Regions from separate parts of the Homo sapiens genome. Here region 1 is linked to region 2. Evidence: fine-mapped expression QTL. A gene starts in region 2. The other region holds a variant in brackets. All regions are shown on one strand. Distances are from middle to middle. Region 1 overlaps NUDCD1 (NudC domain containing 1). Region 2 holds the start of NUDCD1 (NudC domain containing 1).

What was found. PIP is the estimated chance that this variant, and not a neighbour inherited with it, causes the effect.
Region 1: its variant is fine-mapped to the expression of NUDCD1 in skeletal muscle (GTEx, PIP 0.94).

Annotation. Positions count from the first base shown.
Region 1 is chr8:109,235,575-109,252,224 of GRCh38, reverse strand. It overlaps NUDCD1 (NudC domain containing 1), which reads left to right. Exons shown (of 10, transcript NM_032869.4): 9 at 6,744-6,903; 10 at 8,924-11,306. The coding sequence ends at 9,216. Among named protein-coding and RNA genes, the nearest start is that of NUDCD1, 90 kb to the left of the region's middle. The variant A/G (reference allele first, on the strand shown) is at 9,502.
Region 2 is chr8:109,330,425-109,338,424 of GRCh38, reverse strand. It overlaps NUDCD1 (NudC domain containing 1), which reads left to right and starts at 4,338. Exons shown (of 10, transcript NM_032869.4): 1 at 4,338-4,532. The coding sequence starts at 4,415. ENY2 (ENY2 transcription and export complex 2 subunit) reads right to left here and starts at 4,078. Exons shown (of 5, transcript NM_020189.6): 1 at 3,951-4,078; 2 at 2,221-2,297. The coding sequence starts at 3,956. RefSeq lists enhancers at 3,797-4,046, 3,312-4,234, 4,417-4,466, 4,597-4,646.

The DNA of each region.
Region 1 (16,650 bases), 91 kb after region 2:
TGAGGCTGAACCAGACAGTAGAGAATGCTTTTCCTTGACTCCCCAACCCACATCCCCCTCACCATCAGGCTAGGAAGCACATCAAGCAACAAGTAACCACAGCCTACCACTAGAGAGGAAGCAAGAGCATAGACTCTGAGGTGAACATGCACAGTGAAGGCCTAAAGCTTGGGATGGAACAATACCATTGAGGAAAGTACTCGAGCAAAACTGAGTAACCTATGAATTATAGTGGAACTCAAAAGGAAAGTTAAAACATATTTTGTATTGAACGAAGATGAAACATGGCACACGTGGAATACAGCTAAAGCTTAGGGGGATATTTACAGCATTACATGTTATACTAGAAAAGAAAAAAGTGCCCCAATTTAGTACTTTAAGCTTTCACATTAAGAAACTAGGAAAAGAAGAGCAAACTAAATCTAAAGCAAGCAGAAGGAAGAACACTGTAAGGATAAAAGTGGGAACCAGTTAAATTGAAAGAAGGAAATAATAGAGAAAACTAATAAACTAAAAGCTAGTCCTCTGAAAAGATCAAGATTGGTAAGTCTCTAGCCAGACTGAGGAAAAAGAAAACACAAAGTATCAACATCAGGAATAGCACTTAGGATGTCAATGGAGATCCTAAAGACACTAAAGTGTAACCAATGAAGTCTTATGCACAACTATATTTCCATGTATTTGACAATTTATATGGAACAAATTTTTTAAGCTGCAAAATTACTAAAGTTCACTTAAGAAATAGATGAGACCTGGCCAGACACGGTGGCTCATGCCTGTAATCCCAGCACTTTAGGAGGCTGAGGCGGGTGGATCACGAAGTCAGGAGTTCAAGACCAGCCTGGCCAAGATGGTGAAACCCCGTCTCTACTAAAAATACAAAAATTAACCAGGCGTGGTGGTGGGTACCTGTAATCCCCGCTACTCGAGAGACTGAGGCAGAGAATTGCTTGATCCTGGGAGGCAGAGGTTGCAGTGAGCCGAGACTGTGTCACTGCACTCCAGCCTGGGCGACAGAGCGAGACTCTCTCCAAAAAAAAAAGAAAAAAAAAAAAAGAAATAGATGAGACCTTATTAGTTATATCTGTTGAAGAAGATTAAATTCATTTTTAAAAACTTTCCAACAAAGAAATCTCCAGCCGCAGATGGCTTCACTGGTTTATTTTACCAAATGAAGAAACAATACCAATTCTCTACAAACTTCTAGAAAGTTGAAGAGAAAGGAACACTTTCCAACTTACTTTATGAGGCTAGCATTACCCTGATACCAAAGACATTAAAAGATGAGAAAACAGGAAGGAAAAAACTAGTATCCTCCATGAATACAGACACAAAAATTCTTAACAAAATATTAGTAAATGAAATCCATCAATAAGTAAAAAGGAAAATTACATTATGACCAAGTAGGGTTTATTCTGGGAACTCAGAGCTGATTTTGTTATTCAAATATCATCAATCAGTATAATTCACCATATCAACAGACTAAAGAAAAATATTTGATCATCCTAGTAGTTGCAGAAAAAGAATATGAAAAAAAAATACCATTCGTTGATGATAAAAATGCTGAGCAAACTAGGAATTGAAAGAAACTGCCTCATCAGAAACCCTAGAGTTAACACCATACTTCATGGTAAAAGACTGAAGGCTTCTGCTACAACTGGGAACAGGCCAAGATGTCTGCTCGCATTACTCCTGTTAAGCATAATGCTGGGAGTCCCAGGTAGGCAGTGAGGCAGGAAATAATAGTGAAAGGCATAAACAGCTATCAAGAGATTCTAATACCACCATGAAAAAAATGAAGCCAAACACCTTTTAGGCATTATCTTAAAATAATGCTCATGTTCAGTTTCTTTATCCACTCTTAGTTTGGAATCTTTGAATTGTTTTCCTTTTGTGGCATCTGGCCAACCTAAGAAGTAGCAAACATCTGGCAGTGGCAAAATCTTTATTTTATTTAGCTGTATGAAATACTTAGTTTTGAAGTAAAAAATAGGGAAGCTAGAATTTATTTAATAAGTAAAATGAGTATCACATAGTCTCTTACTACATACAGAAAGAAGTAAAGAATTCAACAATTCTTGCCAGGCACCAGTGGCTCACACCTGTAATCCTAGCACTTTGGGAGGCTGAGGCAGGAGGATTGCTTGAGTTGAGTTCAAGACCAGCCTGGGCAACATAGTGAGACCCCTCATCTCTACAAAAAATAAAAAAATTCCCCAGGCATGGCAGTGTGTGCTTGTCGTCCCAGCTACTCAGGAGGCTGGGGTTGGAGGATTGCTTGAGCCCAGGAGGTCAAGGCTGCTGTGAGCCATGAATGTGCCACTGGACACCAGCCTGGGTGACAGAGTGAGACCCCATCTCAAAAAAAAAAAAAAAAGAATTCAACAATTCTTTATATATCTCATTTTTTAATGGGATTCTTATGTCTCTCCGTAAATTATATGTAGTTACTGCCATCAAAAAATTGACTAGTTTGTTTACTTTGGATTTTAAACTTTAAGGTACTTGGTTTTGAGTATATGTTAAAAATCCAAATCTTATTTGAAACATGACTTTGTCCCTTTTCAGGGGCAGATCCATTTACTGAGGAATATATGCATTACAGGAATATATAAAATTGAAAGCAATAAGCATACATTTGTAACCACTGATAAAAATAGAATTTATATGACAAAATGACAAGTAGAACAATGAATTCTGTATTTCTCATTTTTGAAATGGTACAAGAGTATAGAAATTTGTCTCAAATATGCTGGGATTAAGACAGAATAAGTGTATGTTATTTTTATAGCTATTTACACATTTCTGAGACATAAAATTGTATAAGAGCTGTAGCTGTGAGCTACGGGAAGATTACTTGAAAGCTGCTATGCTTTTCTGTCAGTGTTACTCATCTCATTCTTAAAATTTGAAATGCCATTAATATACAAAACAAAATGTTTTAAGAATGCTGGAAGGGTAATAATTAACATTAATACTTATTAAGGGCTTTCCTAGACAGGTAATAATCAACATGAACACTTATTAAGTTCTTTCTAAGCTTTGAAATATATTGTTTACTCATCATAACAATTGTGAAGTGAGTAGTAGTTACCATATTTATAAGGGGAATAAAATGGTTTAAATATCCTACCCAAAGTCATAGCTATCACCCTCAAAGAGCATATAAGTGAAATGAAGAGACAAACTCTATAGGAAAAGTATAAATAATTAGTTGCAATACACAATTTCTTTTTATTAGAATTAGGGAAAACTTCCTTGGAGGAGAAGATGCCATTTGCATATGGCATAGAGTGTATAATGGACAGGATATGCAACAGGTTAAAAAAAAGCATGAATAAAGGAATGGGGAAATAGGGGAGACAGTTTTGCAAATTGTGATCCAGTTTTGCTAAATGTTATATTTTAAGGAAAGTAATAGTGAATATTGAAAAGTATGCTGGGGTCAGGTTTCGAAAAGCTTTCAAAATGCCATTTAAGGCAATGTGGACCTTTTTTTTTTTTTTTTTTCCAAACAGTGGAAAGCTATAGAGGGAAATTACTGAGAAACTAACATTTCTGGAAGTGAGAACTAAAAGGCACAGAGAACTATGTACTAAGTCTAGAAGCTCTTGACCCTAGTCACCCTCTTGTTAGGTTAAGAACCTAATTATGAGATTTTTGCCTTACAGAATCTTCAGCCAATTATTCTAACTGTAAAATAGATAATTCCCAAATCTAAAGATAGATTAGCCTTGGTGAAGATATTACAGAAATAATCACTTTTTACATAACATTCATTTAAAAAAATTTCTTTACAATTTGGAGAAAAAAGGGCAGACTTCTAGTTCCTAAGAAGAATTAGTGTTGTGAGATGGGTGGTATGTTAGGTTGCTGTTATTACTGCAACGAATTGCTGCAGGTGTAGTGGTTGAAAACAACACAGACTTATTCTCTTACAATTTGGGAGGTCAGAAGTCCTAAAGTGGTTTGTAGGGACTACATTCATTCTGGAGGCTCTAGGGGAGAATCCATTTCCTTGCCATTTCTAACTTCTAGAGGCTGCCTCCATTACTTGGCTTGTGGCCGGGCCCATCCTGTGTCTTCAAAGCCAGCAGTATATCATCTTCTAAACTCTGTCTATCCCCTTGATTTTGTTGTTATCTCACCTTCTGTGTCTGTGGCCCTCCTCCCTCCCTAAGAATACTTCTTAATACATTGAGTCTACCCACATATTCCAGGATAATCTCTCCATCCCAGGACCTTAAACTTAACCACATCTACAAAGTCCCTTTTGCTATATAAGGTAACTTATTCACAGGTTCCAAGGGATTTAGATGTGGACATCTTTGGGGGACGTTATTCATCCTGCCACAGGTGGTATGTAAAAATATTAATAATCTAATATAATATGATAAATAATTTGATAGGAATAACATACATGATGCTGGAGTTCTCAGAATTCAAGCAGCTCATATAACCACGAGAGTGGGGGAATTCTGAGAGCAACTGATGGTTGAATTGAGTCTTAGAGGATAAGTGGGAATCTATCAGGTAAAAAAAATACAAGGAGTCCAAACAGAATGCTATGTCAAAGGTATGGCAAAGACAAGCTGTATGAAATTGCTAGTTTCACAATTAACAACACTTGACACAGTCGCCATAATGGAAATATGCGTAAGGTAAGTGGCTGCTGAAGTGAAGAAACATCTAAGTCAGAGTGAGGGGCTCATAATAAGGCACCTACCTTCATTCTTATCCTCTTATTTTCATGATTGATCTCCCTTGGTGGTCACCTTTCACTTCGTGGTTCAAGGTCCTCTATTCTTTTCTCACTGCTGTCTCTTCAAGTATGGATGGACCAGAGATCATTCAATTATATTAATCCTCATAATATTCAATACATTCTTTAGGCACTTGGCTCATGAAAGTAGATGTATTGTTGTGAAAATATTGTTTCAACTTGTATTTTATTTTAGCTGTTGTTTATTTTTCTTCTGTGAAAGCCCTTGGTTAAAAAAAATAGAGTATCAGAGTTGGAGTACAGGGAAGAGAGCTGAAGCAGTGTTAGGTCTGTCAAACATAATAATAAAAGGCCAGTTAGGTAGTGGTGACTTTGAAAATAAACCTCATCTAGCCACTGATCATCGGGAGTAAGGAGAGAAAAGAAATAGTCTGTGGTCTCTGTGTGCTGGCCTTCTCCCCTTATTTTGTAGAGAGCAAGCACTGGCTCTACGAAAAAGCCCTATTTCCCTGGCATTGCTGGGGAGCAGAAGATGGGTTGCTCTGACACTGTATTCTCCTGTGACCAATAGCCTGTGTTGTCACAGCTTTACCAATAATAGGTCCCCTTGCTGGAGAGCCACTTCACAGCTTTCCCTGTTGAATTCAGGTCAGGTCTCCACTTCTTACTTTAACCCAATCTTTTACGGTTCTCCAGTCTGCTTGCAAACTCCTAGAATCAATTACATATTTATAAGTACTGTGCATATTTTATATTTTCTACATTTGATGTGATTTTTGTTGGTATTCTGTTTCGTATTTTCAACTCTGATAATAACATTTCTCATAAAGAAGACTATCCTTACAACATGTCTTCATTTAGAAAAAGTATTGCTGTAGATGAAATTCAGTGAGTTTCAATTTGATGATTTTGTATTAAAATGCATTTCTTTAGGCATCAATATTGCAGTAACAATTATTGATGTGTTACAATAACAAATGTTGACATTATTGACATATTGACATTGATACTTTAATTAAGCAGTACGTTTAAGTAAATAGTTTTAAACATCTGAGTGTGAATTCCAGCATTGTGATATTTCTCTTTAGCCTAGAACAAGTTACTCAAACTCTCCAAGCCTGTTCTTTCATCCCTTAAATGAAGATAATAATAGCCTTGCGAGTTGTTAAGATTAGTATTTATAACATGCCTGGTTATAAATGTTATGAGAGTGTGCTCATAAATTCTGGTAGTGTCATTGTTCTTGGTAATTATTACAAGTTAGCATTAGTAAACTTCATGTGTGTATTCTATGGCCTAAAAATAGTCTGCTTATAAAATTGGTGCTTTATATCAGCAGTCCCCAACCTTTTTGGCACCAGGGACCAGTTTTGTGGAAGACAGTTTTTCCATGGGCCTGTGGGGGCTTGGTGGATGGTTTCAGGATGAAACTGTTCCACCTCAGATCATCAGGTATTAGTTAGATTCTCATAAGGCAGACAGCCTAGATCCCTTGCATGTGCATTTCACAATAGTGTTCACCCTCCTGTGAGAATCTAATTCCACTGCTGATCTGACAGGAGGTGGAGCTCAGGCAGTAATGCTCCCTTGCCTGCTGCTCATCTCTTGCTGTGCGGCCCAGTTCCTAAAAGGCCACTGACTGGTACCAGTCTGCGGCTCAGTGACTGGGGACCCCTGCTTTATATCGTGTTTTAAACTATTTACTAACAATTAAGAGGTGGTATATCACGTGGTGATTAAGAACATAGACTCTGGGTCCAAATTTCAGCTCCATGACTTATGGCCAGGCTGACCATCGACAAGTTACCTAAATGCCTTGTGCATCACTTTCCTCAGCTTTGAAATGAACATAACAGTAGCACATTTATCTCAGGGATATTATGAGGAGTCAATCAGATTAAGTATATAAAAAGTATAAAACAGTTGCTGACACTTAATGCTGGCTGTCAGCTTCTGCCATTGTTATTGTTGCTATTATTAATTTGTTGTTGAGTAAATTTTTTTTTAAATCACTTTTTAGGTGAATCTTGGAAGCAACCAGTACCTTTTCTCTGTCATAGTGGATCCTAAAGAAATGCCCTGCTTCTGTTTGCGCCATGATGTTGATGCCCTACTCTGGCAACCACACTCCAGCAAACAAGATGATATGTGGGAGCACATCGCAACTTTCAATGCTTTAGGTATAAAGCAAACTCTTTGACATTTTCCATGAAATCAGAAATACAGTCATCATTCATTTAAAGTTCATTTCTTTTTTTTCTTTTTAATTTGAGCTGTCCTGATTACATTTAGATTGATTTGCGCTATGATTTGTTTGCTTGTACTAGTTGTGAGTGTTAGCACTGTTGGAACATTTAGACTAATCTGTTTTTATGCTTGTACAGAAGATCAACACAGAATAGAAATGAAAGTGGTTATCTAACCACTTGAATTATTCTAATAAGTCATTTGCTTTTTCTAATTCTGTAAGCCATATAATACTGGAGTCTGAGCAAGGAGCTTGATAATACCCTACATGGAACTGGTGTTCAAGTTTCTTCAGAGTAATCTTCAGAAACATCATAGAATTCCCCTAAGGTGTAATGCACATTAGGAGACATCTTTTGTCAAAATTAAGTACAAAAGAGAGCCATTATAATGAAAATACTTATGGAAAGCGGTGATAAGCAGAAATTAAATTTATTTGGTAGGATAAAAGGAAAAAAATCAGTTTTAAAATTAGGGCTTGACAATGTTTAAACTACTTAATTATAGACGTATGCAATCATTGATTTTCTGTCAAAATGCATTAGTATTGTGTGACAGAAATTTTTTATGTGAATTAGCCACAGTTGTTGCTTTATTGAAAGGTTATTTTAAACAGGCAGCAAGAAGTGAAGTTACGTATTTTGATGGCTATATGTGCACAACCCTAATTGTAGAAGAAATTTATTAATTATCCCTTATAGTTAATAATGTAGGCTGCTAAACTGGTTCAGACTCCAAATGGATTTTTATGACCTGAAGTACAAAGTTTGGTTAACTAATTTAACCATATAATTTTTAGCCTCCCTACTATAATGCTATTTTTTAATTATCTATACTTTGGTCAGAAGAAAGCTCTATCATATCATCTTTAGATGCTCAGATGTTCTATTTGTATCCCCAAATCCCCTATTATAGGGGAATTCTATGCTTAATTCTAAGTTAAATCAACATATATTAGATATGTACTCTTGAAATATTATATACATTATTCTGTCAAGGTTAGCCTGGATAGCTACTTTAAACTATTTAAATAGGTATCTAAATCTTCACTTTTCCTGCTTCAAACCTGCTTAATATTTTTAAAAACAGTATTGATCTGCATGTGCTCAGTAGTTCCTTTGCTTATTCATTGTTTGATGAGATCTCAATTTTAATTAATGTTATATTCTTATTTTACATGATCATAAATACCTAACATTTGCTAACCATGTCACTATCTAAAAATCATAATTTATATTTTGGAATATAAATGTTGTTTTAATCCAAAAAGATACTTTTTAAACATGTACATGAATTAAGATAAGGATTTTTTTCAGTTTAGAGACTTGAAATTATTTTTGAAGTTATAGTGATCAACATTCTACTTGTGGGGGCTAAAAGTACAAAAAAATCCAGTTACAGTGTTGGTATTGATGTATAAAAATATCACTAACATTTTAGGGATAATAAGAGAATGCATCACGAATACTAGTACATTCAGGGATACATTATGAACAGAAAACTAAAATAACTTTATGATGGTATCCTATACACATTTTCCAATTTATTTAAGAGGAAAAAAATGGTTCTGTGATGCCCTATCCGTAACTCACGAAGCTAAATATTAAATTGGCACTTAAAGATATTTTGTCATGTATTGAGTGTTTTAGATTTTAGAATTTTAGTGTTCGAATTATTCGTGGAAATTAAATGAAGCTATATTACGCTTTTTTTGAAGCGAGAAAGCCATATCTGTTTTGTTCCTTAGGAATTAAAGTCGTATTTTTGTACCAGATGGGAGAGACTGATTGTGGCTAATCGTTAATGATTCAGAATTATATACCTTATGGTATATATTTTACTTGGGCATTTTAATTTGTAATAAACATTGCAAAATATTAAATGTTAAATCATCATTTTTCCCCTTCTGTTTAATATATAGTTTTTCTTTTGTTTGTCTCATATTCTTGGCAGGCTATGTCCAAGCATCAAAGAGAGACAAAAAATTTTTTGCCTGTGCTCCAAATTACTCGTATGCAGCCCTTTGTGAGTGCCTTCGTCGAGTATTCATCTATCGTCAGCCTGCTCCCATGTCCACTGTACTTTACAACAGAAAGGAAGGCAGGCAAGTAGGACAGGTTGCTAAGCAGCAAGTAGCAAGCCTAGAAACCAATGATCCTATTTTAGGATTTCAGGCAACAAATGAGAGATTATTTGTTCTTACTACCAAAAACCTCTTTTTAATAAAAGTAAATACAGAGAATTAATTATTCTAACATATTGGCCTCTTTGTACTGGAAAAGTATTCAGTGGTACCTGGAGGTCTGGACAGTTATACTGTAACCTCTTAAGTTTTAATGTGCTAAATATATCTTGTATGATTTTTTATTTTTTAATAACATTGGAAATATATTCAAGAGATTATGATTCTGTAAAGCTGTGGAATGAAGCTGCAGATTTAGAGAACATTGGCTTCTGAAAAAAAAAAAGAGTGAAGATAGTACTAGCAAGTATACTTATTTTTTAAAACAGGCTAGAATCTCATGTTTTAT[A/G]TGAAAGATGTACAATTCAGTGTTTAAAAATAAAAATATTTATTGTGTACTCTGTTCGTTGATTAGTTGCTACAGGCTGTACCTATAAGATGTACAGGATAATAGTTAAATGTTGAGTATTGTACATATGTATTTAAGTGGATTGAATAACTGAGTCTACATGGAGGAGGAAATGCTAGAGAACAGCAGGTCTAATATTTTTTAAGTTTACTGAGAGACCTTTATTATTATTTTCAAATTAAGTATAGCTTTATGTAACTTTTAGCCAGTTGCTCTGCCACAGACATAGACAAAGAGAGATAAGATTTCACATTATCCATCACTGCATAACAAACCACACCAAAACTCAGTGGTTTAAAACAAGGACTTTTATTATTTTTCACGATTCAGTGAGTTGGCTGTCTCTGCTGTACAGGGCCTCTCAGCCTCCAGTAGACTAGACGAATCTTCTTTCCATAGTAGAGAAAACATCTTAAGAGAGCAAGCTCCAATATGCAAGAGCTTATCGATCCTGTACATCTATCATATTTACTAATGTTCCATTGGACAAAGCAAATCACATGGCCAAGTCTAGAGTCAGAATGAGGGGACTACACAAGCTGACAGCGGATGGTATGACTCATTGGGGGCCATTGATGGAACAATCTTACCACACAAGGACAAATTATAATTTATCCTTGTGGCTCTCTTTATTTTTCTAACAACTTCAACAAAATAATCCTGTTTATATGTTATAGTTTCTTGCCACAAATTTTGTTTTTTCAAACTTACCTTTCCAGGTTTGTTTTAGTATGTATGTACCTGGAAATTTTTATTACTTTTTATACCATTTCAAGATATGTATCTTATATAAACCTCAAGTTGGATTTTATATTTTAATAAGGAAGTTAAGACCTTCATTTAAGAGGCAGAAGATTAAGATAAGAAATATAAGATAGAAAAGCTTTGTTCCTAACATATCTTTTGCCTGTCTGGGCAAGTATTTGACTCAACTAAATTTTAATGAACGAATGAATGACAGAGAGGAGGAAAAAAGATGAGGATTGCATACATGTTCTAAACCCTTTGTCAGATTGCAGTTTCCTAGAGAGTATTGAGGTGCTAGGTAGAAAGTTAGGAAAGGTCCTGAGGACTGGTATTGACAATTGGAGTCCTAATAGTACTCTATTCGTATTAGGAAAGAGAGACTAGATACCAAACATCACGAGATCATAGAGATGGAAAACTGTATAGTAACCAAAAACCAAAACAGTGATATTTCCAGAACTTTTTAGTATTGTTGTAAAACTTCATGAAACAAAAGACCATTTAAATAGTGAATTATTAAAAATCTTTATGATGGGAAAGTAGATCTAAATTTTCTCTAAAATTTTCCCCAAAGATAATATCCTCTTAGGGAACATAAGAAAAATGTATAATAAAAATGTGGTGCTTAATTAACCATGACTATGTATATATTGCCAATTTTAGTAATCAATATTCTTTGTGCATGTGATTTTTTTGCATGATTAATGTTGAATTGAAAGCTCTCAGGATAATTAATCCTAAATATTGTCGCATGTTGACCTACGTTAAAAGATGAATAGGTCTAGAGCCGTGATTTCAAGCTATTTTCCTGAAATGCTTCAGGGATTCCATAAACATTTAAACAATGTTCTAAGGTACATATACTTAGAACATTGAGATATATACTACAAGTGCTAAGAATATAGTACCTTGTATTTTTGTTGATTTTTATCATGTTTTAAATAGGAATTTATAAAATATTTATGATAGTAATAAAGTAGTATTTTATGTGTTTTGCATATTAAGAGTCATTAACAATATTCACTCTTTTAACACATTTAAGCATCAACTATGTACCTTAGCATGATTTTTTCAGTATTAAGGATAATATATTACTAAGGATAAAGAGACAATCTACATTTTAATGATTTTCAGATAAAATTTCTTTTTAGGGAAAAAAAGAGGAGAGGGTGGCATAGAGTGGTTGCTTTCCTGCTAAGGAAGTCTGACCAGGGCTAGAACCTTGGGGACTACCCACAAGAGTCAGGTAGAGGAGTTGCCAATGGGAAGAGTTAGAAAAAAGAATCAGAGTGTCAAGAAATTAGGAATGGTTAACAATGTTAAAAAAAATACTCTTAAATAAAGTATACTCATCAAATTTCTACATAAAAGGGAAATGACTGTACAGAACAAGTTAAACCATCATTACACAGGAATTTCTAATATTTTGTGTTATTAACTATAGAAAAGAACAGATGGTAAGTTTATGTGTGGCAAGTCATATAAGAAGGCAAAACTGATACTTATCACTGATTATTACTGGAAGAATATTCTAATTACTTCTTAGTAGTAAGTGTGTCTTACTGAACAAGTAATAATAGTTGAGTGGTAAAAAACAAAAGCCCAATGATGGAAGTATAGAAGTAATAAAGCAAAGAGAAGTAAGGCCTTCTAGAATTGGTAAGAAAGAATAAATGCACAAAAAGAGCCAAGGTAAAAGGTACCCAACTAGATATCAAGATACATCATGAAGCAGTAAAAAGAGTAGCATCATTGCATTAGTAAACAAAATAGACACACATTTAATCGTCCTATACTTACAAGAAGAAAATATCTATATTCTCAAGGTTGAGAAGGCTTCTTAAGATCCAGAAGGCAAAAATATAAGCGAAAGGATTGATGAATTTGATCATTACAAAATGTAAAATTTCTTTATGACCTACTTTTGGTATAAGATAAAGCAACAGACTGAGGAAAGATATGTGACTTATGCGTAATGTATGAATGTTAAAATCTAGAACATAAGAACTATCATTTAATAAAAAAGCAAACAAGTTATACAAAAGGAAAGCAGACAAAAGATATGAACAGTTAATTCACAGAAAAGAAAATAAAGATGGTCAGTAAAGCTACAGTAATCAAGAAAATGTGGTATTGGCACCAATTTCAACAAATAGATCCATAGATCAGAATAAAGAGTCCAGATGGAGACTCAGACACATATGGTCAGTTGATTTTAGTCAGAGATATTTCAATGAAGAGGCAATTCAAAATGCAGAGATAATTTGATGGAGAAAAGATATATTTTTAACAAGTGGCGCAAAAACAATTGGGTATTCATTTTTGCCTTTGTAGTAGCCTAAATAGTGGCCACCTGAAGATATCAGGTTCCAATCCCTGGAACATGAAAATATAACCTTATGAAGATAAAGAGTCTTTGCAGAAGTGATTACAATGAGGATCTTTACATGGAAAAATTATCCTGGATTATCTGGGGTGGACCCTAAATCTAATTGCAGTGTCCCTTACAAGAGAGAGGCAGAGTGCAATTACAAACACAAAGAGGAGAAGCTTATGTGAAGATGGTGTTTAAAAGGCCACAAGCCGAGGAGTGCTAGAGCATGCTGGCAGCCACCAGAAGCTGGAAGAAGCAAGGAATAGATTCTCCCTCAGAGCCTCTGGAGGGGGAATGGCCCTGCTGACACCTTGATTTTGGTCTTCTGGCCTCAGATCTGTGACAGAATGCATTACCACCGAATTTGTGGTAAATTCATTACAGCGGCCATAGGAAACTAACACAGCCTTATATCAGAATTTACTTAAAATGGATCATGGACCTAAATGTAAAACCTGAAACTGTGCAACTTCTAGCAGATAACATAAAGGAAAAATTTTGTAAGGCTGGGTTAGGCAAAGATTTCTTGCATATGACACCAAACAAGAAAAGTGACAAATCATACTTCATCAAAATTAAGAAATTACGTTCTTAGGCAGTGTTGTGACAATGAAAAGCCACAGATTTGGAGAAAACATTTACAAATCACTATTTAATAAAGCACTAGTGTCCAGAATGTATAAAGAACCCTCAGAACTCAATAATAAAATAATCAAATATGTAAATTTTTTATTGGGCCAAAATTTTGAACAGATACATCATACAAGATGAATGGCAAGTAAGCATGTGAAAAGGCACTCAACGTTATTGGTCACTAGGAATGAGCAGATTGAAAGCACAATGCGGTATCACTACATAGCTATTGAAATCCTTTAATTGAAGACTGACCATTCCAGATGCTGGCAAAGGTATGAAACAAATGGAGCTCTCAAACACTGCTGTTTGGAATGTAAAATGGTAGAATCGCCTTTGAAAAGAGTTTAGTGGTTTTCTAAAATGTTAAACATGGATCTTCCATGTGACCCAGCTATTCCACTTACCCATTCTTTTACCTAAGAAAAATGAAAGTATATGTCTATTCAAAGATTTGAACAGAGCAACAGCATTCATAATAATCAAACCTCAGAACAAGTCAAATATCCATCTACAGATGAAGGGCTAAATACATTGTGCTATGTCCATGCAATGGATTATTACTCAGCAATAAAAAGTATCAATATACCCAACATAGATGAATTGCAAAGTAATTATGCTGAGTGAAAGAAGCCAGAGTACATACTGTATGCTTCAACTCAAAGTTCTAGAAAGTGCAAACACATAGAAAACAGATCAGTGATTACCTGAGCGGGAGGGATTTGAAAGATTATAAATGGGCAGAGAAACATTTTAGGTAAAGAGATATCTTCATTATCTTAATTGTGGTAGTTCGTGAGTGTATATATACACAAGTTAAATTTTATTAAAAAGTATACCTTAAGCATTCCATTTTGCACATCAACGCCTCAATAATGCTTTTTAAATTTGTTTAAAGATTAAGTATTGAATCTTATCAAAATTTTCTTATTGATTTAATTTCTGCTTTTTAATTTTTTTTTTCTTGTGTTGCAATGGCATTTTAGTGCATGTTTCCTATATCATGGGGATCAGCATCCCTTCCCTTTTATCTTGGAAGTATACCCATTCCCCTTATTTTGGAAGTATACCATAATTTCTTTCTAAGCCAATATATTTGTGTGTTACTGACTCTGTCCTTGGTACCATGTATAGAGAACATTATTAAGGCTAAACCAGTCAGTACTTTGCGAAAGCAGAATCCCTGGTCACAGTGACTGGTTCATAAATGGGCACTTGACCCATTTAGAAACAGTGATTCACAGTGAGAATTTGCAGTGATTTCTGGGACAAAGGCTTACCACTGGATGTAAGAATAAAGGGATATAAACAAAACCCCATTTGTCACTACAGTAAGGTGAGAACTTCTCAAAATAGGGAGCCAACAAAGGATGGCACTAAGAGACTGAGAAAATGAACCTTGATAATATAATCTAGTCCTACCAAGCAATTCTTAAAACCAGCTGTTCTTAGAATTTTGGATAATGGGAGTCATTAAGTTTTCTTTTTCCCTAAGTCAGTTTAGGTCAGATTTTCTGTTACTTGTACTCAGAAGAGGCCTGATTCTGTGGTGGAAAATTCTTTTAATGTATGATTATACTGTGCACATTGAGACTTTATTCTAGATTTTTACATCAGAATCTATGGATGAGAATTACTGATATTTTAATCCACATAGGGGTTTAATAGATAAGTTACAAGTGCTTTTTAAATGGGGGAATTTTTTTTCACTTTAAAATAGTTTAGCAACTCCTCAAAAATGTATATTAATGAAAATAAATTTGGAAGAAGTTTCTGTGGTACCAGGGAGGGAAGATAAAAGTAAATGTACTTTCAATCCTGAAGCTCTATTTTCTGACTTCAGTATTTTCCATGCACCCAGTCTACAATTTTTTTACTCCAAACAGGAGAAAAAAAAAATCTGTAACATATTACATTTTTAAGCCATTTAAATTTTTTCCACTTCTGCAACTGACTTTTTTTTAAGTGTTTGAGATTCACTTTTAATGCTTGCCAAAATATCCAATATGAATCTATCTCATAGTGCAGGAAAAAATGATATCAGGTGAATATTGAAGAAGATTAAACATATTCTTGACATTAGGATAAATATTGTTCTCATATCTGCCATCTATGTTTTTCACAAAGAACATGTAGTTTGGCCTACAAAATTAATACAGTCACTGAAATTTATGAAATGAAGAACTCTCAAAAAACTATTCTTCTGAAGTCTTTTACTAAGTAGTAAATAAGCATTCAGTGTTTTTCCTTTATCTACAAATATACACCTACTTAGAGGAAAAAGAGAAGGATGAAGATATCTTAGTGGAGGCACAAGGCAATATAAGCATAAAGCATACCCCTACGTAGGTTGATATAATAGGAAGTTCATTAGTGGTGCCTCAGGAACCCAGCTGGAATCAGGTGTGAGGAGAAATAACTGAGATTGCAGCCAGCACGGAAAGCTGCTTTGTAAGAGTCTGGCAGTTTTTCAAAAGGTTAACAGTTACCATATAACCCAGTAATTCCTCACCTAGGTATATATCCAAGAGTAATAAAAACCTGTACACACATGTTTATAGTAACCAAAAAGTATAAACAAACCAAACAGCCATCAACTGACCAATGAATAAATAAAATGTGGCTTATCCATACAGTGGAATATTGTATAGCAATAAATGATGCTACAACATGGATAAACCTTGAAAACATTATGCTAAGTGAAAGAAGCCAGTCATAATAGGCTACAGATGGTAGGATTCCATTTATATGAAAAGGCAGATCTCGCTGGGCATGGTGGCTCATGCCTATAATCCTAGCACTTGGGGAGGCTGAGGAGGGCAGATCATTAGAGACCAGCCTGGGCAGCATGGCAAAACCCCACTTCTACCACAAAAATAACAAATATTAGCCAGGTATGGTGGCACATGACTGAGGTCGGAGGATCACCTGAGCCCAGGAGGTCGAGGCTGAAGTGAGCCATGATTGCACCACTGCACTCCAGCCTGGGCATCAAAGTGAGACCCTGTCTTTAAGAAAAAAAAAAAAAAAAAGCACATCTATAGAGACAAAGTAGATTAGTGCTTGCCAAAGGCTTATGGGCTACAGTGGGGAAGGAATGGAAAGTAACTGCTAATGGGTATAGGGCTTATTTTGGGGGTGACAAAAATTGATTGTGGTGATGGCTGCACAACTCTGATTATACTAAAAACCCTTGAATTATACACTTTAAATAGGTGAGTTGTGTAGCTTGTGGATTCTGTTTCAATGAAGCCATATGGAAACAACAACAGCATGAGAAAAGAGCTAAGAAAAAGATTCTGAGATCATCTTCCATGCTAAATATGAATGGATTT
Region 2 (8,000 bases):
TTCTTCTTCTGAGAATGGCAATTCCATTCTTCTGGTTCCTCAGACTAGGAATCTCTGTAGTATCCTTCCACTCAGCTGCCTTGTTAACACTACACATCCAATTTATGAGCAAATCCTATTGGGTTCAATTTAAAACATATACCTAGAATTCACCTTTCTCACTATCTCCGCCATTACTACTCTAGTTCAAGCCATCATCTCTTCTCTAGAATATTACCATAGCATTCTAGGTTGTCTCCCTGCTTCTTCCCTTGTACACTTAGTTCTTCTCCTGCTGCTCAAAAACCTCCAGTGCCTTCCCAATTTACTCAGAATAAAACTCCAAGACTTTATTACAGCCTACATGATCCTTCATGATCTGCCTTCTCCCCAGCTATGCCACTGACTTAATCTCCACTCTCCCTCACCCAATTTACTCAGTCTCCCTAGCATCCCTGTGCTCCTCAAAAATGAAAGGCAAGCTCCTATCTCAGGAACTTAAAGAGTCCCTGCTCACCCTCATATCCTTCTGATTTTTTTTTTTTTGAGACGGAGTTTCACTCTTATCACCCAGGCTGGAGTGAAGTGGCGCGATCTCAGCTCACCGCAACCTCCGCCTCCCGAGTTCAAGCGATTCACCTGCCTCAGCCTCCTGAGTAGCTGGGACTACAGCCCATCACCATGCATGGCTAATTTTTGTATTTTCAGTAGAGATGGGGTTTCACCATGTTAGCCAGGATAGTCTCAATCTCCTGACCTTGTGATCTGCCAGCCTCAGCCTCCCAAAGTGCTGGGATTACAGGCGTGAGCCACTATGCACGGCCTCCTTCTGATTTCTTCTTTGTTTTTTCTATCTAAAATATTACACCTCTTTATTTTCTGCTTTATTGTTCCTCTAGTGCTCATCACCATCTGACATTATTACACAGTTTTATCTGTCTCCTCCCATTAGAATGCAAGCTCTGTGAAAACAAAGTCTCCATTTTTGTCTACTACTGTTACCTCCAACACCTTAACAGGGCATGGCATATGATAGAAACTCAGTAACTTGAAGCTGCATGAATCAAAAACAAACAACAAAAAAAAAAAACAACATACAATCCGTACTCCTTACCAGCAGTACTATCCTCTAAAGCTACCCAAGGCAGTTATCGATGCCTCCTTCCTCATTTTGAGGGTTGCTGTTTCTACATTTTATTAAAATTCTAAGGTCTCCTTCCAATTTTTGGAGTTTTCCATTTTCAACCCTATATAATCTTCTACCTCATTTTTCTGCCATCTATCTTGTCCCCTTCAAGTCCAAGCTCCACACCAACAGAGTAAGATTCCTAAAGTGTAAATGTGATCTAGTCATTTCCTTTCTTAAAACTTTAAATGACTCCCATCATCCAAAAATAAAGTCAGCAACAGATGCACCTCTTTTTCTTATTGTGTGAGATCTTACATGATCACCTGAATGCCCGGGTTGAGTTGAAAGATTCCCCCTCTTCCTTATACATATTTGCCTCTTCCTTATACATATTTGTCTTACTCACTTTATAACCCTGCCTCTGGGAGCCTTTCTTGATTCCTCAGCCCCTTCTTTGTACTTCTAAACCTGTTGATTCTGCAAATATTTACGTGGCCAATTATGAACCAAACAAAGCATTAGATGCTGGGTATACAATGTTGTTTTTGGTGTTAAAGAACTTAGATTATACTGGAGGATACAAACTAGCCAAGTAGATTGTTAGAACACAATGTTGATTAAATGCTATGATGGAACAAGGTATTTGGGACTTAAAAACATTCCTTGAAGAGACAATATATAAATTAGACCTGATAGTTGAGCTAGAATTAGCTAAAAAGGAAGAGAAGGAAGAATGTTTTAGAGAGTGGAAACAGCACTTGCTGCTCCAAGGTTGAGAGCTTGGTAAATGAAGCTGGTTCCACAACATTGTCTCCCTGTTAAAACCCAGGTAACATTATGTCTCCAGTTGTAATTCAGGTATGTACTTTTTCTTCTCCATCAAATTACTCTTTAAGAGCCATATCTTGCTCATCTTTCTACATCACCACTTCCCTCCAAGTCCTGCAATACTTAACAAACCTAAATTATTTTTTCCAGATGTTCGGAATAGAAACTTTTATAATCTCAATTGTAATTCTTTCCAGTGACATGTTTCATTTCTTGTTTAGATTCTTACAAGCTAACTATTAAAGGCGGTGAAATGTAATTTATTAACACAATCTATTACTTACCGTTCTCTTTCTCCAGTTTCTATCAACTTTTGGTTAATCGCTGCTCTCATCTGCGCATCTTTGTTCATCTTGCTAACCTGGACATCAACATGTACTTTCAGATATAGAACATTTACAAAGCATTTTCTGCTAAATCCTCTAGGCAGGCATCCTAACATGTTTACCATTCTATTAACTGAAGGGGTGATACATTTCAAGTGTGTTAATAATATCATTACTCTTTATTAAACACTTATGTGCTTGGCACTGGGCTAATGCAGTGTGGGTTTGCTTTTTTTTAAACATCACATTTAATTCCCAGAACGTATTGTTACATATTTATATTAATAAAATAATCTGTATTTTACTGATGAGGAAACTGAGGCACAGAGATAGAAAGTGGAAAGGCAAAATTTGAACTCAAGTACTTTGACCCTAGGAGCTCCAAAACTGAACATAACTGCCGATCACTTCTGCAGAGACTGCATCCAAAAATTGGGAGAAGTCATACATACTAAACATCAAAAAAAGATTAAATACTATTAGTAAAAAAATAAAATTACCAGGCCGGGCACAGTGGGTCACACCTGTAATCCCAGCACTTTGGGAGGCCCAGGCAGGTGGATCACGAGGTCAGGAGTTCAAGACCAGCCTGACCAAGATGGTGAAACCCCGTCTCTACTAAAAATAGAAAAATAAGCTGGGCTTGGTGGCAGGTGTCTGTAATCCCAGCTACTCAGGAGGCTGAGGCAGGAGAATCGCTTGAACCCAGGAGACAGAGGTTGCAGTGAGCCGACATTGCGCTGCTGCACTCCAGCCTGGGTGACAGGGCAAGACTCTGTCTCAAAAAAAAAAAAAAAAATTAATTAATCAAAAAAAATAAAATTACTAGATAAGGCTCTAAGTGTTTTGCTTTACTCTTCACTAGGATGAACCCACAATTACAACTGCTAAACCTAAGTGTGTGGATGTGTGTGTTTACACACACACTGCTGGTGGGATAAGAAGAAAACAAATCTCAAACTAATTCCTAACTTACAAAGTCCTCAATTGTCAGTAAAAACAGACAACCCAAACCAAAATGATGTTGAAAGAAGAGGAAAGTTAGGTTTTGAAAGCGTTAAAGCCACTTAAAAGTTTAAATTAAATAAAACTTGGCGTAAACTAACGTTTTCCCACCTAATCTGTCACTAACTTGAGATTACTTTTGTTGTCTTCCATCTGGCCTATTGAAAATTCAGACTGGCAATGAGTTACCAGAGTTGATTTTTTTTTTCTTTTTTGAGAGGAACAGGGAAAAGGAGAAGTTGAGTGAGAACTAGGAAATGCTTGCTTTTGTAATTGGAGGCTAACATTTTCAAAATAACTACAAGGTCTAGTCAGTACCACTCCTGGAATATTGAACTTGATCTCGTCTTGGCTCCTAAAATACGGATAGTGACCTTGGACAAGTCACTTAATTCTTAAAGGCCTCAGTTTTCTCACTGGTAAAACAAGGGCGCTAGGGTATCCCTCCCAGTTCAGACATTCTTAGGGAAAATAGAACAGGGCGGAGACAGCGGGAGAGGCGGGAGAGGAGGAGCCAGAAAACAAAGCGAGGACTGGTTTCAGGCCAACTCCGGTAGCACGCCCTGTCGGAGAGCCCTACAGGCCCGCGAGCGCGGGTCGGGGACGCTAACGAAAGACAGTACATCGAAAGGAGCCTGGGCTGGGCCCGGGTCCCGGCCCTGAGGACCACGGGCATAGCTCACCACCATCACCGCGGGCGAGGGCCGTCCCTTCCCAGCGACGAAATGACCCTTGCGCTGAGGACCGTTACCTACCACACTCTTCGGCTGCCCGGACTTAGACCCTCAGTAGCTCGGGCACCTAAGCACACAGAAAGCTAGAACACGCATTTCCGGGGCGGGGTCTCGCCACCCTGCCTATAATGTGAGAATTTAACCAGCGCGGGCCGCCTCCTGGTTGCTAGGGCCTCTGGGTAACAGAGTTCAGACCTTGCCGTCGCGCGCGCGTTAAGTACCAGGAGAACTACATAGCCCAGCATGCAACAGTCTCAACTTTTTCACGGACACTACATTTCCCAGAAGGCAGTTCGCACCGCAGTGTTTTCTGGGATGGGAACCACGCCGCTTCCCAGTCTCTGTGCGAGGCGTGAAGCGCGGACCTTTCAACAAGGGCTTTATTAATTCTCACGCTGCGGCCCTGGAAAGCGATGGAGGTGGCGGCTAATTGCTCCCTACGGGTGAAGAGACCTCTGTTGGATCCCCGCTTCGAGGGTTACAAGCTCTCTCTTGAGCCGCTGCCTTGTTACCAGCTGGAGCTTGACGCAGGTGGGAAGCGGCGGCGCCCTTCGTACTCCGTTCCTTTCCCCTTTCGGCTGCCTCCGGCCTGACCCTTCCCGCAATTTCTTTCTTTCTGACTGGCAAGCGAAGCCACCGTGGCGGCTTGCGTGGACTCACGGAGGCCGCTGCTTCTGGGGAATGATGCCCATCCCAGAACCCGGTGGGAGCCGCCTTCGCGCGCTCTTCGGTAACGGGACCCTGGGCCCCCTCCGTCAGCAGCCCAGCCTCTGAGGTCTGAGGTCTGAGGGCTGGCGTGCGGGTAGTGCCTGGGGCTCTGGCTGCTGTGTGTCCACAGCCTGGCTTCTGTTTCGGGGGACGCTGAGAACATTCCTTCCTCCTGGAGCATCGCTTGTGAACGTGTGCGTTGAGAAACCACACCTCCTTGGAGGACCCCCAGTTCCTGTTTCCTCTGACCGAGAGCCGTTTCTTAGAAGAGAAACTACATTCCAGTCATAGCATTTTTAATTACTCAGTTCCTGGCACATTAAGAACTCTGGTAGAGAACATCTCTAGAAGATAGTGAGGAAAAGTGGATTTACTCCCACACTGCTACTCCTTGCTTTATCTGTAGCTGGTAGAATATCCTTACTCTTGTTTTTACAACTTAACGGCATTTTCGTTATGATAGAGCCCAGAGATCTGCATTTTAAAATTCACACCCCTGCTGATTCTGATGCATGTTTTCAGAGATCACACTTTGAGAAATAGTGATCTACAGTTAATTATAATAACAGACATTAAAGTATAAAATAAGTTTATGCTAATTGATTTATTAAATTCAGAAATATTTACCGAGTACCTGTTTTGTGTTACGTCCTGATAATATCAAAATGAACAAGACACCTTCCGTAACAAAAGAGGACTATTAGCTAGTTAGGAAGAAAATTGTAAACAGATAATTGTAAAACAATATGGGAAGGCAGTGATAGGGATATGTACAAAATACAATGGTAGTACTTGAATATCTTTCCTAAACTAGTCTGGGGATCTGGGAAGGCGTCTTGGAGGAGTTAATATCTAAGTTGAGCTTTGAAGGGTAGGTTAAGAGTTGACTAGGATGAGAGAGGATAAGCTTGATTTTTCTTTTTATTTTTTTCCTTTTCCTCTTTGCCACCGTGTTTCTTCCAGTCACCCCATGTCAGTAGATGGTATCACCATGTTTAGTTAGTGCATTAGAAAGTGAAGCCAAAATTCAGTGTCTCAAAACAAGAAGCAGTTATTATTGCTCACAAGTCTACGGGTCAGCTGAGTGGTTCTTCTAGTCCTAGTTGGGCTCATTGATGCATCCTTGTTCAGTAATGGATCTGCTGGGAAGCTCTGCTCATTTGGCTGGACTTCCTCATATGTTTGGAGGGTGGGGGTAGGGTCTCAGACTATAAGCTTGTTTAAGATTCTTTCACATGGTCTCCTCTTGACTTTTCTCCGTGTGGTCTCTTATCCTTTAGCCGACTAGACTAGCCCAGGTTGGTACCAAGAGACACTTGTGCCAGAGTCATTTGGGGTTTATTTCTTTTAGCCACTGTCTGCTTGGTAGCAAGTCCGGTCAGCTCCACATTTTGATATCTCTAGGCCTCCACCCTAATCCAAATCAGAGTTATCTCTTACCTGAACTCTAGTAGCCTCCTGACTAGCCTTCCTGCCTTCACTTTTGGGCTTCGTCATTGCATTCTCCATAAGACGTACTTATCGGCCTTTTAAATTCTATCTTGATTTGTTGTCTGTTTCCTCCACTAGACTATGAGTTCCTTGAAAACAGTGATGTTTTTCTTTTGTTCACTACCCTATATCTAGTGCTTGGCACATAGGATGTATTCAATAAAATGAGTATATGAAGAAGAGAAGAAATTGTTGAGGTCATTCCATTCATGGGAAAGCATGAGGAAAGGGAAATAATTAGTAGGTTGTATGCTGGACATCCTTGCACTCTTATATTGCTGGAGCAAAACGTCTGGGAAAGTGAGAGGAAATAAATCAGTGAGGGCCTTGTTTGCCTTTTGGATTTCTTGGATTTCCGGTCATTCAGTGTTTCCCTGACATTTTTGTATTGAGCCATTACAATATAAAATAAAACTCAGCTGCTGTAGTTCTGCCAACTTTTCTGTTTACTAGGTGGAGATGTTTCTTAAAAACTATCATTTACTCATCTATCTTTTCATAAACAAAAGGATATTTTAACACCAAAAAAGCAGGAAGCAAAATCTCACAATAAACAATCCATTGAATACTTTAACTTTAGAAAAAATTCACAAAGTTGTCCTTGTTCCGTACTCATTTCATCAGCGTTAATCTTAGATTCTGTGTTTGGGATGTACAGCTGCAGGATATCAGGTGCCATTTGAAGATTTTTTTTTTTTTTTTTTTTTTTGAGTCTGAGTCTTGCTCTATTGCGGAGGCTGGACTGTAGTAGTGTGATCTCGTCTCATTGCAACCTCTGCCTTCCGGGTTCAGGCGATTCTCCTGCCTCAGCCTCCCGAGTAGTTGGGATTACAGGCGCCCGCCACCATGCCCAGCTAATTTTTGTTTGTTTCTTTTTGTTTTTGTTTTGTTTTTTGAGACGGAGTCTCTGTCGTTGAGGCTGGAGTGCAGTGGCGCGATCTCAGCTCACTGCAACTTCCGCCTCCCGGGTTCAAGCAGTTCTCTGCCCCAGCCTCTGGAGTAGCTGGGATTACAAGTGCCCGCCACCAAGCCCAGCTAATTTTTGTATTAGAGACGGAGTTTTACTATCTTGGCCAAGCTGGTCTTGAACTCCTGACCTCGCGATCCACCTGCCTCGGCCTCCCAAAGTGCTGGGATTAACAGGCCTGAGCCACTGCTCCGACCGATTTTTTTTTTTCTTTGAAGTTCCGGGGTACATGTGCAGGATGTGCAGGTTTGGTACATAGGTAAACGTGTGCCATGGTGGTTTGCTGCACCCGTCAACCCATCACCTAGGTATTAAGCCCAGCATGCATTAGCAATTTTTCCTAATGCTCTCCCTCCCCCTACCCCATTCTCTGACAGACCACAGTGTGTGTTGTTCCCCTCCCTGTGTCCATGTGATCTCATTATTCAGCTCCCACTTACAAGTGAGAACATGTGGTGTTTTGTGTTCTGTTCCTTCGTTGGTTTGTTGAGGACAGTGGCTTCCAGCTCCTTCCATGTCCCTTTGAAGGATATGATTGTGTTCCTTTTTATGGCTGCATAGTATTCCATGGCGTATGTGTACCACATTTTAAGTACAAGGGACGTGAACAGATACGGGAGTTGAAAAGCTTACCTCAGACTCTGTGGAGGTTGAGTTTGGAAGATGAGATGACTGCACACAGCAGATAGGAGGCTTTTGCAATAGTTCACATGATGAGTTTTTCATTAGGAATTACTTGAGGATGATGAAAAAGATTATTTTGTTTAAAAACTATCATTTCTAGAGATAGTGAAGCATAATTGAGGCGCTTCTGGTAATTTGATTTCTTTTAT